Homo sapiens: one gene and its partner. The protein of the gene in region 1 interacts with the protein of each later gene in a biochemical or structural test. Each region holds a gene or a part of one and is shown on either strand. Other genes may lie near its edges.

Region 1 (7,451 bases):
CCCCCAGTCTATACTTCTTAATGGGCTTGCCCAGTGCTGGGCCAGGAGGAGCTTTGTTGGAGCCCCAGTCTCTGAGAGTTCCTACAAACAGCCAAAAACAGCCTCTGCCTGTGGGCCCTGCATGGCCAGAAGTAACCTGGTAGATGTTATGACACAAAATAACAGATACCAGTCACCAAGGCCAAACAACAGTTATGATAGGTGAAAAGATGGCTTCTTTAGGCTGGGCACAGTGGCCCAGGCCTGTAATCCCAGCACTTTGGGAGACTTAGGTGGGAGGATCACTTGAGGCCAGGAGTTCGAGACCAGCCTGGGCAACATAGCAAGACCTTGTCTCTATAAAAAGTTTAAAAATTAGCTGGGTGTGCCGGGCATGGTGGCTCACACCTGTAATCCCAGCACTTTGGGAGGTCAAGGCAGGCAGATCACAAGTTCAGGAGTTCGAGACCTGCCTGGCCAACACGGTGAAACCCCGTCTCTACTGAAAATACAAAAATTAGCTGGGCGTGGTGGCAGGCACCTGTAATCCCAGCTACTTGGGAGGCTGAGGCAGGAGAATCACTTGAACCCGGAAGGCGAAGGTTGCAGTGAGCCGAGATTGCACCGCTACACTCCAGCCTGGGTGAAAGAGTGAAACTCTGTCTCAAAAAAAAAAAAAAAAAAAAATTAGCTGGGTGTGGTGGCATGCACCTATAGTCTCAGCTACTCAATAGGCTGAGGTGGGAGGATCACATGAGCCCATGAGTTCAAGGCTGCAGTGAGCCATGCTCACATGCCACTGCACTTCAGCCTTCCAGCCTGGGCAACAGAGCAAGACCCTGTCTCAAAAAAAAAGATAGCCTCTCTGGAAAGTTCTCTCATCCTTTTATTTGAGATTGGCATCTGAAGAAAGTCACCTGTGTTTTCTCAAGGATGATGTGGCCACTCTCTCACATACCAACCATTACACTTTGAGCTTCTTTTTTTTTTTTTTTTTTTTTGAGACGGAGTCTCGCTCTGTCGCCCAGGCTGGAGTGCAGTGGCACAATATCGGCTCACTGCAAGTTCCACCTCCCAGGTTCACGACATTCTCCTGCCTCAGCCTTCCGAGTAGCTGCTGGGACTACAGGTGCCCACCACCACACCCAGCTAATTTTTTTGTATTATTTAGTAGAGACGGGGTTTCACTGTGTTAGCCAGGATGGTCTCGATCTTCTGACCTCGTGATCCACCCACCTCGGCCTCCCAAAGTGCTGGGATTACAGGCGTGAGCCACTGTGCCCAGCCTAGGCTTCATTTTTGACCCCTCCATACCCATTCACACAAATGTTGTTCCATTATTTTGATGGATCAATTTGTTCCGCCAGGACAACTGTAATATGTCTGGCAGTGCTTTCACTTTGATCATCTAATTAGATTTGCTCCTCTCACCCACCCTGAGAGATAGGTAAGGACATGGATTCTCCCTAAATTAACTGGCTGGCAACAAGATAATTAGTCACAATGTTTGAACTGGCTTATTACCGCCTGCTCAGGCATTCACAATGGAGGCAATTTTCTTAAGTACATGTTCAAGGCAAACAAGGGTCACCTGGTATGGATGTAGCTGTTGAGCGTTAGCTGAGCCTCATCTTGAAGGGCTGCAATGGCGGCAGCATTCCGGAAACTTCTCAGTTCAGAACCACTATGTGTAGGAACTAGAAATGAAGACCAGGAAACTGTGATAGACAGCATAGAAATTGCATCTGGGAGCCGAGCGCAGTGCTCACGCCTGTAATCCCAGCACTTTGGGAGGCCGAGGCAGGCGGATCACTTGAGGTCAGCAGTTCGAGACCAACCTGGCCAACATGGTGAAACCCTGTTTCTACTAAAAATACAAAAATTAGCCAGGCATGGTGGCATGTGTCTGTAATCCCAGCTACTTGGGAGGCTGAGGCAGGAGAATTGCTTAAACCCAGGAGGCAGAGGTTGCAGTGAGCTGAGATGGTGCCATTGGACTCCAGCCTGGGTGACAAGAGCAAGACACCATCTCCACAAAAATTTAAAAAATAAAAAAAAAGAAAGAAAAAAAGAAATTGGGTCTGGGAATGCACCTCTCTGGAAGTTGATGCCCAGCAGAACATGCAGGTTCCCATAGCAATAAAAAATGGGGCCAGATTAAGAGTATCAGCTCCCTTGAAAACCATCACCTCTTTTTGCAAAGGTCAGTTCAGACTTCGAGGTGGCTGAATTAGTGAGGTGGCAAAACTGGGGAAGGAGAAGAAACAGGGGTCTGTGTCTGCTTACCGGCTTTGAAAGTGACGATGCATTTTAGACAGGCAAATTCAGTAGCATCTAACCGGAGTTGTCTAAATCGAGCCACCACCTCTTGTAAAGCCTGTATTTCAGATATGATCTTGTTCAGCTTCTGGGAATCTGTGTTGTCACCGTTCATGCCTAGAATAAAAATATGGGATAAATACTCTAATATGAAGGCATTTTCATGATTTAATATTGATTTTTGACAAAATCCTGCATATCAATATCTATTCAATTGTCACTCTAAGATATCTGATTCCATGTAAACCGGCTATATTGTATGAAAGTTAATATAAAATCTTCTCTTGGATGATAACAAACACAGTAATTTGCATTTAAATAACAATGCAAGCAGTCATGAATACAACAAAACAACATTATTTGCATTTAAATATAGATTTATAAATGACAGGTATACTCTATTGTTCAGCAGGAATTTGTTATTCTTTACATGTTGTTCTTTTTTCAGTAATGTATTTTTATGGTAATTTCTACAACAAAGTCATTAAATTGTGCAATTCTTACCAGATACAGCCAGTAGAGTGTTAGCATCAACCGGAATGGCCCATTGTGCTATTCCTAGAACAAACAGTTCTCTCCAAGCATCTTCCAAAAGCATCAGCTGTCATACAATAGATGTATAATATAATATAGTGTGTAATTTATAAATTTATAAACAATTTCACTATGTAAATTTCCATTATTTTAAAAAGTGTTTTAAATGCCTGTCTTGGTAATTTTTTCTGAATATTCTAGCTTTCCCTTATTTTCCCATATTTTCCTTTTGAAAAGGTGCCTATAGATATGCATATGGATTTGAGAGTCAGCCATTCCAATTCTCCAAAGTTTCCTTCTCTCAGAAAAGGATTTGCCCCTCTTGTCCTTGTATCCACCCATTCCTGACCACCTAGAAGCTCCTCTAGAGAGCGAGGCTTTATGAAATGCCAGCAGCTCAGCAGGTGGATTCCCCTCACAGAGAATGCTGCTATTAGCAGGGTTGAGGATTCCTCAGACGCTTGCAGAGCTGGGTCCCCATCTTCCTGGAGGGTTGAGGGGGCTGGGCTGGGAGAGAGACAGAGATCACTAATTCCCAAGAGGCACTGGGGGAAATCAGGGTGTAATTATGTTAATCGGGTTTTGCTGAGTTTTCCTCGTCTCACTGCTTGATTTTTCTGAGACCCATAAATGGACAGCATCAAGGTGCTTGTCATTTTTATTCTAATAAAATGTGCTACTGAATATTTAAAATGAAAATCTGTCTCTTTTTCCAAATTAATATACCAGATTCCACTTCACTGCAGGTTGCTTGTTGTCGAAGGATTTCTACCAAAGGGCTAAGTGGCAGACAGTAAGTAAATTTTGTTTGGGTGAGAGTATACAAATACTTATTTTGAAAAAAAATAGCCAGTCTACACACACACACACACACACACACACACACACACACACACAGGAAGTGGTTAGAGCTAACCAGTAAACCTGGTCAAAGATAGGACCTAACTACCTTTAAAAATCTCAAAACTCAAAAGCCAGTCAACTCTAAATGATTTATGTAAAAGGATTTCTTTTGGGAGCTAAGAGCTGAATCATGAAGGCTTGTAACCAAAATCACAATTAGACCAAAGGGTTTAATTTTTTTAATGTTTTATTTTTAGTTTTATTCCATCAAGTACAGGAAATAATTATAAAATGCAAGGTAAACAATATTTAATTCTGGCCATATTTGAAAGGGCAGGCCATGAAAACAAGAACATCTCATGCTAGAAAATGAAATGCTTTTAGCACATTGCCCGATCTTTCCGTAGGAAACATACTTCATATAAAGGGGCACTATTATGCTTTAATTAGGTATGAAATGAATTGAAGAAATAAATCCTTTGCTTTTAGAACTACTTATTAGCCTTTGGAAAATTTGTCATTAATTCCTGTGAATGCACTGGTAACAGCCAATGGTTGGGAACACTTTATTTTCTTTCTTTCCTTTAAGGTTAGAAAAATGTTAGCATTTCTAATATTCCTATCAACAAAATTTCTGGGTCTCAGTACAATACAATGTTTCACTGCACACACTTTTTCTTCCCCTGAATGTCATTTACAACCACGGAATTAAGCAAAATGCCTATTTGTTTACAAAATGTCTAAAAGTACATGAAGAATCAAGGAAGAACCTAGCCTACAGGAGGTGTGCACTGTGCCCTTTGGTTTTACATGCTTATCAATTAATGACCAAAACTGGGAGCATCGCAATGGAGAATATAAAGCTGGGAATATAAAATAATAACATCAGTTCTGAAAAATCTCATGAGGGCATACTCTTACCACCTTCTACTTCTCTCAGTTCCAATGTTCTTAGTAAAACATTGTTTCATCAACAGTTTTAGAAAATCATTACAATTTTAAAATTTGAGATTATATTTGCTGTTCCAATCAAACAAAAAGAGGTAATGTTCTTGTATGTGTGTTTTCACAGACTGGACCCATCCTTTCTGAAATAATGTAATTACGTTTCTTACTAAGGATCATATAGGTAGATATTTTGAACCCACAGGAAGAAGCAAGTAAAAACAAGTAGTTTCCTCACTGCTATTAAGAATGGATGCCTGCCTTGGGTGGTTTACCCAGGGATAGAGGAAGTTTTATAAGGCTGAGTGCTACTGCTTCTTTCCCAGCTCTCTTTCTCCCAAGGCCTCAGTGTGGTCATACCTGGTCTTGCAAAGACAGCGTGGAGAAGGCTGGCACACTCTTAGCCCACTTGATGCTCATGAAGAGAAGTCTGGCAGCTGATTCACACACCGACTCCGTGGCCACTTCATAGAGATACATTGGGGTCCCATTCACTTCATGGGGGTACTGGGTAGGGAAGAAAGAAAGACACCTGGAAGTGAGGAAACCACAGCTTTGCAAGAAGAACCAAACTTTTAATTTCTAATTAAAGCAAGGAAGGGGATAAAAAAGAATTTGGATGTTTTGTTTAAACATGCAGTTGACATTGGTGGGTAAAAAAATCAAACATCGCTGTCTATAGAGTTTGAAAAGTAATACTGGTTGGGGGAGGTCCATTTCCACTCTTTGGGAGCCTCTCCCTTCCAGAAGGCCCTCTGGCTTTTCTATCCCCTGCAGCAAATTTTCCTTGGGCTGAGCCAAGTGCCAAGCCTGGCTCCCAATTTAGACAAGAGCTGCTTGCATTTGTGTAAATAAAAATAGATGTGAAAAAGTATAAATTAATAGGCATCCCAAACACAAATATGCATATGAGTATTTTTAGAAAGGATTAGTATATTATGGAAATATTTCAATTAGACATCTTAATCATTCACAGAGCATTCCCATTCATAACTGACAACATATTCATAACACTACTTTCCAGAGCTTATTATACACATCAAGGGTAAGAAAGCCATATTAAATATTGTGCGTGTGCATGTGCCCAGGTGTCTGGCTTCCCTGCAGTGTGGGGCTGCAGCTGGCCCTCCTCTGAGGGAGATCCTAGGCCCTCATCAGCCTGGAGTGGGGGTGTTAGTAGGTATCAGCTGTAGGCCTGGAGGGTAGGCCTTAGGTGGCAGCCTTTCCAGGTGGTTCAGGCTGTGGCCCTGCTCCTATGGAATCAACCCTGCTGTAAATCCACCTGCCTCAGAAGTAGGTGAGGGGAGCATGGGAAATGAACTCAGATTCCTCAAACTGTTCTAACAGTGTGATCTCCACATTTCGCACTTGCGTTAGAAACTCATGGCTTTGCCCAAGATCATACATGCCAAGATTTGGAATTCTGGAGCCCTTCCTCCAGCTGTAGCCAATTCCTCTCCTCTAAAAATGAACGTTGGTTCTTCTGGTCTTTAGGAACACCTGAGGCTGCCCTCTGGGTTTAGACGAGGTCTCCACCCACCACCCATTACCAGTGGGTGTTTCCTAAAGGTGCAGGTTCCTGGCCTCCACCCCAAACTTGCTGAAATGAAATTTCTGGGGGGATAAGATCCGGAGTGCACACTTGTAGCCACTCGGAGGTTGACTCTACTGTACACTCAAGTTTGAGCACCCCTGGCTGAACAAGGGAGAGCAGAAGGGCTGGAGCTCCATGCAGAGACCCGCCAAGCACCCTGGAGTTCTCTCCCCAGTTTGCCTGACCCCAATCACACAGCTCAGAAGAACTGGGTGCGTCCCTCTCCATTCGCTGGCACGAGTCTCTTTGGGCCCAGCAAGGCCGCTGACCTTGGGCGTGGGCTGAGCCAGGCTCACGAGGGTCTGCCGCTCTGGAGTGGTGGACACCGCGGCCAGCTCCAGGCCGTGCGGCTCCAGCTGCGTGACCGCGGTGAAGAAGGCCGGCGCAGGGAGCGCCGCCGAGGGAAAGTGCGCGGCGGCCCCGTTCTCCTCCTTGTGTCCACGGAAGTAGAGGGCCACTTGCTTGCGGATGGTGGACGTCCGAGGCCCCCGCTCGTGCTGCACGGCTGCAGAGGCAAACAGAGAAACGCATGCCGGCGATTAGAGACGTCGAGACACAGCCGCTGCGGCTCTCCCCCCAGCCCCGCCCCAATGTCAAGTCTGGGCGGGCAAAATCGCCCAAGAGGTGAAAAGAAGAAGGGAGAGGGAATCTGAGGGAGGAAGGGATTCTGAGATCGTCTAACCACTACACTGAATAGATTCGGAAGCTGAGGCTTAGAAGAGGGGCCCGTGCTCAAAGTGCCACGATAATGGCAGAGCCTCAAGTAAGACCAGGTGTGTTCTCCTTCGGTCCAGGGCTCCTCCCCACCAGGGAAGGGGGTTCGCAGGGAAACCAGAGACCCTCTGGGCTGGAGTAGCCAGGTATCCTCGCCCCCATCCAAAAGAGAGGGAGCGTCGCGCACGCCAGACACCTCGTTTCTGCGCAGACTTTTCCAGCTCCGTCCAAGAACAAGCCTCCCTACCCGCAGGCCCCGCCCCCACAGAAATAGCTTTTGGCCTCCGAGGGCCGCAGGAGGAAAGGACCCGAGCCCCGGGATTGCTAGGGAATGGAACGAGGGAGAACCCGTCTCCGAGTATGCTGGAGAAAGGCAGGGGAGATGTGACAATTACCACCAACAGTTTAAACAAACAAATTAATTCAGGGCAATCTTCGGCCTGCCGAGCTTGACAACTTGTCAATACACAAGTTCAACAGGTTGGACGCTCCCTCCGGCTTCCTGCGCCGCAGAGGAAGGGGC
Region 2 (7,639 bases), on another chromosome or scaffold:
ATTAAGCAGATTATCTCTGAAACTGCACCTTAGTTTACAAGCCTTTGGGCAACAATTTGACCCTCTTCTATGATAATTTGTGTACACACTCATTTCACATTTTCTCTGGCTTCCAATTTTAAATTCTTTATCTAATCCATACAATAAGTCACCCTATCAGACTTTATAAGACTACTGAAAACAACACTACTGCAATGCAAGGCCACTACATTTGCAAAATTGCCGATTTTAGTGAGATTTCCCTCCTTCAACTCCTCCTCTACCCCTCTACCTGGTTTAAATCCCAAGAAAAACCTCTGTCCAGTGCTACAATTTTACTTTCCATAGAGTAGGTTTATTTGATTTTTTATTAATGATACTAAAAACTTTTTTAAAAGACTGCTGGTGTATATAGTTTCCAATACTGGGAACAGAAATAAACCCTCTGGTTTAATATTTCAAGAGAAATTATCTCATAAAAGATGAGAAGGTATCATTCAAAGGAGTCCTGGGAAGTCACAAAGTGTAAATACTTCTGGTAACAGAACAAATTAATGTCGAAGCACAACCAGTAACATAATAATGCCTCAATGCAACCGTGCCTGTCAAAGGACATCTGTATTAGCAGCTCGGGGAAGTGGCATTTGCAGAAAGGCACAACAACTGCGCTTAAAAGAAAATCATTAAGCCTCAGCCATTAATCCCCTCCCCCATCCTCTTCGTCTGGATCTTTCCAAACAATTAACCAGTAGAAGGTGCTATTCTGCAACCCACATGTATTCACACCAACCTCCATCCTTGGGCCACAGCTGGGTTTATCCCAGGTGGACTAGCCTATTCCCTGTCCAGTATTCAAAGGAGCCCCCTAAACAGAAAACCAGATCTTTTCTTATAACCCTTATTTACAAAAACAACATTGACAGCTCAATTGCCAGCAAACCTGACCATCAAACCATCACACCACTAAAAACATGCAAACATCATCTTGCTAAATATTAACCTCAATACAACCTTTATAATATTAATCAATAAAATCTATTTCTATCTAGAAAGACTCTGCTCACATTCACTACTAAGACTCAAGTGAACAAATCACTGTCCCCAACAAAATCAGGGTCAATGAGAAATACAAAAGCAATGAGAGCTGAACGTAAGGCCACAACATATAAAGAGGGATTTTATCTTTACATATACAAAAAAGAAAGAGCAGCAGAAACCACGGCTGCAAAAGGAATAAAGGGAGGCAGAGAGAAGAGAAGTCTCTGAACATGTTTTTGAGTGTCCTTTAGTTTCCAATGCACTCTTCTGCCTCACAAGGTTGCAAAAACGGCCAGGCATGAGATGGGTGGAAGAAAGCTGTAACAGAAAAGCACCCTCCCTTCCCCCATCTTCTCTCTTCTCTCCCAAAAAGAGCTGTGTTTGTCTGTGCAAACCTAGTCCCAAATATGGGAGAGAGAGAATGAATGTGTGTATGGAAGAACAATGAGCCCTCAGCTTGGTATTGTGTGTGTGTGTATGTGTGTGTGTGTGTGTGTATATGTGTGTCTGTCTGCCTCTGCCTCTTTTCCCTTCGACCTCAACAACAACAGGGAGAGCTGGAAGCCAGCTTTCCACCCATCCCAGGCCATCAAAATCAAAACTGGTTGATAATTTACAGTAGTATTAACTCAGCAAGCAAATCCATGGAACAAAATATCAACCCAAAGATGATTTTATTATTGTACAGATCCAGCTTCTCTCCCCTCCCCCAACAGACTGAGACTAAAAAGACCAGTGTACACTAGACAAAAAGGTCTCTCTTTAAATGGAAAGCAATTATGAAAACTGTTTCAAATCTTAGATGCATCAATTCCTGCTATATTAAAATGTCTATTTTGTAATTCACCAAGTTCACCCTCTTACTAGTTATCTTTTTTTGCGTTTAAAAATTCGCTGTGAAGAAGGCTATTTCACGATTCATACAAAACTACTTTCTAAATGTACCTTAAAAAAGCAACAGATACTGAAACATTTAAAGCACCCAGTTTCTCAAGGACCCATTTTACTTAAATCAATGTTTGAAGTCTGTAATCCAGAAAAATTGTAAGCAAACCTTGGAAAAGAGACAGAGGAAAATGACAATTCAACAATGAATCATTCTGTTTTCCTTTCAACAACTTCTCAAGCAACCAGTTTCAAAGGAAGCCTGCAACACTTTTCCCCCCTCCTAGCAGACACACATACACACGTGTATGTAAAACTACGAATCTTTCCATCATCTTAAAAATTAGTAATAAATAGAAGCCACCCTCCTTCAGAGAGCAGAACTAAAACAGGATAGTAAGAATTCTATTCTGCTGCAAGTGACTTTGGGTTTCATAATTTTCTAATCACATACAGCTGAGAACTAGAGATTGGGAGCACAAAGAGGAAATCTTCCCCCAATGAGAAAATGATACTTTAATAATAAAGTCCTCCCCCCAGCACCCCGAAATCCACAAACATTCAAGAAATTTACAGTTTCAGTCCTTGACTTCCTTCCCTTCCAGTTTCAGCCAATAATGTAGTCACATGAAATAGTTTAACCTCAAACAAGTAGAACAAGAGCATGAATAAGAGGCCAAGAGAGAGCAGGGGTCAGAAGGCACGCAGGAACGGTCACCTGGCCCGGACAGGACCAAAGAAGTGCCCTGCCCTCGCCCGACTCCCCTCGACTTCGGCTTCGACCCCAGCCTTTTCTTCCTGCCTCCCCCCGGGCGAGTGACTGCTTTCACGGCCGACCCTCTCTGACCACCAGGACGAGGGGCCAAAAAAGAAAGCACACGACCCGGCGCGGGCAAGTTGGACACTTACCTTCCCCTAAAGCGCTACACCATCAATAGTGAGGTGTTCGCGGCCCAGCTCCGGGGAAAGTGGCGGGGATGGGGCGGGAGGCCGCGCGGAGGCTGCGGGGCCGCGGGGCGCAGGGCCGAGAGGGGCGGCCCGCGGGGAGGCGACGCGGAGGGGCTGAGGGGGCTTCCCTGCCGTGACCTTTCCTGCGACTTGAACCTAGGCTCCCTCCTCCTCGGTCGGGCAGATCTTTCAGAAGCAGGAGCCCAGGATCATGTCTGGTTTTGTTTTCCGAGGGCGAGGGGGCTCCCTGAGGATGATGGTGATTTTTTTTTTTTTTTAATCCTCAACTAGGAGAGAAAATGAGGCAGAGACAATGTGGGGAGCGAGAGAGGGGAAAAGGACGGGGGAGGAGGCGGGGACCGAGGCCCAGCGGGGCGAGCGTCTCGGGGTGTGCGGGAGGCTGAGGAGGCTCCGGAGCGCGGAGGGTTGCTCGCGAGCGTCTGTGGGAACAGCGGCACCTCCGCGATGGTGGCGGAGCCGCGGCGGAGCTGCTGCACCGACCCGCCGCCCACTCCCCGCTCGGGCCCGGCCCACCTCGCAGTATCGCGCCCCTCCATTGGTACAGCGCGGTGTGACGCGGCCGGGGGCCCGGCCAATGGGAGGCGGAGGAGGCGGGATCTCTTTTTCCTTTTTTTTTTTTTTTTTTTTTTTTTTTTAATCTTTTTAATAAAATGAGCAGAGAAGAAGGCGGAGAGAGGCCGAGCCTTGACAACGCCGCGGCCCGGGGCTCGAGGGCTCGCGCTGCAGGCGGCGGCCAGAGGCGGTGGGCTGGGCTCCCGCCGCGGGCGCGTCTTTGTGAGAGTGCGAGGCCGGCCCTCCTCCGCCGCCCGCCGCGCTCCAGTACCGCCCCCCGCGCCCCCCGGGCTGGGCCGGGCTGGCGGCGCGGGCAGGTCCCGGGTGGGGTGGGGGGAAGTCCGGTTGATCTTGCTGTTACCCGGGTCTTAATTGGCCTTTTCAGTCATTAGGACGCGGATCCATGTTGCTGCGGGCTACAGAGTGGGTGTAAACCATTCTCATATGGACTCTTTCGAAATTCTGATGAGCGGCTTGTAATATTTTTCAAATAGTGTACATGACAAAAGATGAATTACAGAAAGAAAAATAAAAGTGATAAGTCGCACTGCTTATTTGAAAAGAATAAAAAGTGTCATGAAGGCATAAAGGAGAGACTGTACAGGTACAGAAGGGATTTTAGAAAGAGCAGTGTACAACTCTATAAGGTACGTGTGAAAAAAAATCTAAAAAGAGGAAAAGACCAAACATCACCTCTTTTTCTTTGAAGAATGAAGTATTGTGTCCCACTTCCCGAAAGCCTGATAATCACAGGGTCTATCATGCTGTAAAGGGAGTAGGGGCAGGCCAAATGATCATATTCTAGTTCATATAATTTATGGGATTGAGGGGTTTGGAAATTTCAATTATGATTAGCAGTTTTTGAAATGCACATCATGTTTATTGAGTTCTTTCACAGAGCCTGGCACGAATCCAGGGTGAATCATCAACCTATTGTTGGTTTGTTAATATTCTGTAAATGCTTATTGGTGTCCTTATACCATACACTCTTCCCGAAGGAGTTAAGGTCCGTATAAAATAAGGGGTAGAAAACGTAGCACAAAATAATTCACTCATCTGTTTCAAAAGAAGTGATAATTTTCTCCTTGGAAAATCTATTCAGATTATAATTTCCACATTGAATTATTCATTTTTTTTTTTTTTCTGAGAGGGAGTTTCACTCTTGTTGCCCAGGCTGGAGTGCAATGGCGCGATCTCGGCTCACCGCCACCTCCGCCTCCTCAGTTCAAGCGATTCTCCTGCCTCAGCTTCCCGAGTAGCTGAGATTACAGGCATGCGCCACCACACCCAGCTAATTTTGTATTTTTAGTAGAGATGGGGTTTCTCCATGTTGGTCAGGCTGGTCTCGAACTCCTGACCTCAGGTGATCCGCCCGCCTCAGCCTCCCAAAGTGCTGGAATTACAGGCGTGAGCCACCGCACCCGGCCCACATTCAATTATTCTTTAAAGAATAATTTGGACTAACAGATACTATTGGACCATGACCCAAGAGATCTTAAAAAAAAAAAAAAAAGCCATAGATCCTTGCCATCACATTTCTGAGTAACTTTCAGCAAGAAAAATCCTCTTTGCTGGAGTTATGAAATGGGGAAACTAGTTAATATCTCTTTATATATCTGATAATGTGAGAACTGAATTTTAAAACCTAATAAATTCAATAAACTGCTTCCAACATTCTAGATATGGATAGGACTATCTGACTTCCTGTTTGGAAATGATGAGGGATAAAGTATATCAGTTAGATGGCTTCACTTTCCATCAAAATCTCTATCTACAGGAGCATTCTTTCTTTTTTTTCTTTTTTTTTTTTTTGAGACAGAGTCTCGCTCTGTTGCCCAGGCTGGAGTGCAGTGGCACGATCTCAGCTCACTGCAACCTCCACCTCCTCGGTTGAAGCGATTCTCCTGCCTCAGCCTCCTGAGTAGCTGAAATTACAGGTGTGTGCCGCCACACCCAACTAACTTTTGTAATTTTAGTAGAGATGGAGGTTCACTATGTTGCCCAGGCTGGTCTCGAAACTTACAGGAGCATTATTTCTAATAAAGATTCAGCTCTGTGGTAGACAAATGGACAATGCACTGCCATCCAGCAGGGAGGAGAGAGGCTCTCCACGTTAGGAAATAACATTTACTATGGTATTAGGGATTGGCCGTCACTTTCATTTATCCATAAAAATGTAAATTTAGAAGTCCAGAAATGCCACATAGTTACAAAGCATAATATATGGTATCAGACCACAAAATTAGCAAACTAAACCCATTTAACTGTAACAGTCCCACGAAAGAATTGTGGTCCAGCCATAAAGCCGGAGAGTACTGGACCTCCTTCCAAGGATCTGAGAAGCTGATAATGCAGTAAAATAATCTTCATCGTTAAGAACAACTATTAAACTATTGATTGAAAGCTTATGTTCCCAGTGCCCTAAGAAACATGTTACATTCTTTAGCCCACTTTTTCTCCCCATGAAGTGTATTATTATTATCTCTTTTTTTTTTTTTTTTTTTTTTTGAGACAGTTTCGATCTTGTTGCCCAGGCTGGAGTGCAATGGCGCGATCTCAGATCACCGCAACCTCTGACCCCCGGGTTTAAGCGATTTTCCTGCCTCAGCCTCCTGAGCAGCTGGGATTACAGGCATGTGCCACCATGCCCAGCTAATTTTGTATTTTTAGTAGAGACAGGGTTTTTCCATGTTGGTCAGGCTGGTCTCGAACTCCCAACCTCAGATGATCCGCCCGCCTCAGCCTCCCAAAATGCTGGGATTACAGGCGTGAGCCACTGCTCCCGGCTTATTATCTCCATTTTAAAAGTCAAGGAACTGGGGCTTACGGAAGTTAAAGAACTAGCTGAAGATTAAAGACGTAAAATACCGACTTGGATTTTTTTCCCATATTAAATTTTTAAAAGTTTCCTTATTCTCTTTTCAGCAATATTTTTAAGTGGGAATTAAGTAAATAAAGTAGTTATTGAATCTGAAAATATCAAGGACTTTTTTTAGTTATTTTATGTATCTTACTACAGGTAAGAAGTGATTTTTTTTTAAATATACAGAGATCACATCAGAGCTGTATTAAAGGAAGATGGAAAATGGGGATTATTTAATAAATGATATTGGGACAACAAGATAGCTATATGGGGAAACAAAAAACAACAACACACACCCACTAGATTCATATTACTCCTAACACACCCCACCCCCAAAATCACAGGTGGATTTCTTTATTTTTTTAATTGAAATTTTTTTTTTTTGGAGCCCAGGAATTTGAGACTACTCTGAGCAACATAATGAGACCCCCATCTCTACAAAAAAATTTTAAAAATTAGCTGAGTGTGATGGCACATGCCTGTAGTCCAGGCTATTTGGGAAGCTGAGGTGGGAGGATGGCTTCAGCCTGGGAGGTTGAGGCTGCAGTGAGCTGTGATCATGCCACTGCATTCCAACCTGGTGACAAGAGTGAGACCCTGTCTCAAAGGAAAAAAAAAAAGGAAGTTAGCCCTTGCTTATACGTGTTGAAAATGTTTCTCCCCAGTCTGCCTGTTTCTTGCATTGCTATGGTGTTTTTATGCCTTATAGGGATGTGAAATATTTATGCAGTAAAATTTATTGGTGTTTTTTCCTTTATGGCGTCTGGATTTCCTGCCATGTTAGAAAGAGCTTCTTCAATCCATGATTTGAAAAAGTTTTAGTGTTCTTCTAATACTTTTGATTTCATTTTTTAAAATCATAAAAATTTGGCATAGACAAAAGAATATACATTATGTGTACATAGGTTGAGGGGGATAATAATAAAATAAACACCAGTAAACTCAACCTAAGAAATTGTGGTTTAGTGGTTTCACTTTTTTAATCATTTATTTTAATTTTTTTTAGAGACAAGGACTTTTTTCTTTTCATATCAAGCATGGATAATTCTTATAATTAAAAAAAACCATTCAAGTTCTTTGAACATACAGCTGGTAACTAGTCTTCATAATTCACCAGCAGTACTCAAGCTTTAGAACATGTAAATTATTTTCCCCTAAAATGCCTTAAGCAGAACTAGGGTGCTTTAGCAGGCCTTGTAGCAGACTGAAGCTTGTTTCTAGGCATTTTCTATGAAATTGGCTTCCAAGTTTATGTAGTGCAAATATAAGCCAATAACGAGCCTCAGCTATATCTCCCGTTGCACTTTTTCAGGTTGAGCCTCCAGCAGCACTTCTTTCTTCCCCACTGCCAGT

The links. The genes of interacting proteins can lie anywhere in the genome.
Region 2: the proteins of NR2E1 (region 1) and RERE form a complex in vitro, tested with the Homo sapiens proteins (one study listed by BioGRID).

The regions. Positions count from the first base shown.
Region 1 is NC_000006.12:108,175,771-108,183,221, reverse strand, and holds part of NR2E1 (nuclear receptor subfamily 2 group E member 1), read right to left. Parts: intron 6,720-7,451; coding exon 6,484-6,719; intron 5,128-6,483; coding exon 4,981-5,127; intron 2,900-4,980; coding exon 2,803-2,899; intron 2,416-2,802; coding exon 2,266-2,415; intron 1,677-2,265; coding exon 1,571-1,676; intron 1-1,570. UniProt on the Homo sapiens protein: Orphan receptor that binds DNA as a monomer to hormone response elements (HRE) containing an extended core motif half-site sequence 5'-AAGGTCA-3' in which the 5' flanking nucleotides participate in determining receptor specificity.
Region 2 is NC_000001.11:8,814,349-8,821,987, forward strand, and holds the start of RERE (arginine-glutamic acid dipeptide repeats protein), read right to left. Parts: upstream 3,293-7,639; 5' UTR 2,812-3,292; intron 1-2,811. UniProt on the Homo sapiens protein: Plays a role as a transcriptional repressor during development. May play a role in the control of cell survival. Overexpression of RERE recruits BAX to the nucleus particularly to POD and triggers caspase-3 activation, leading to cell death.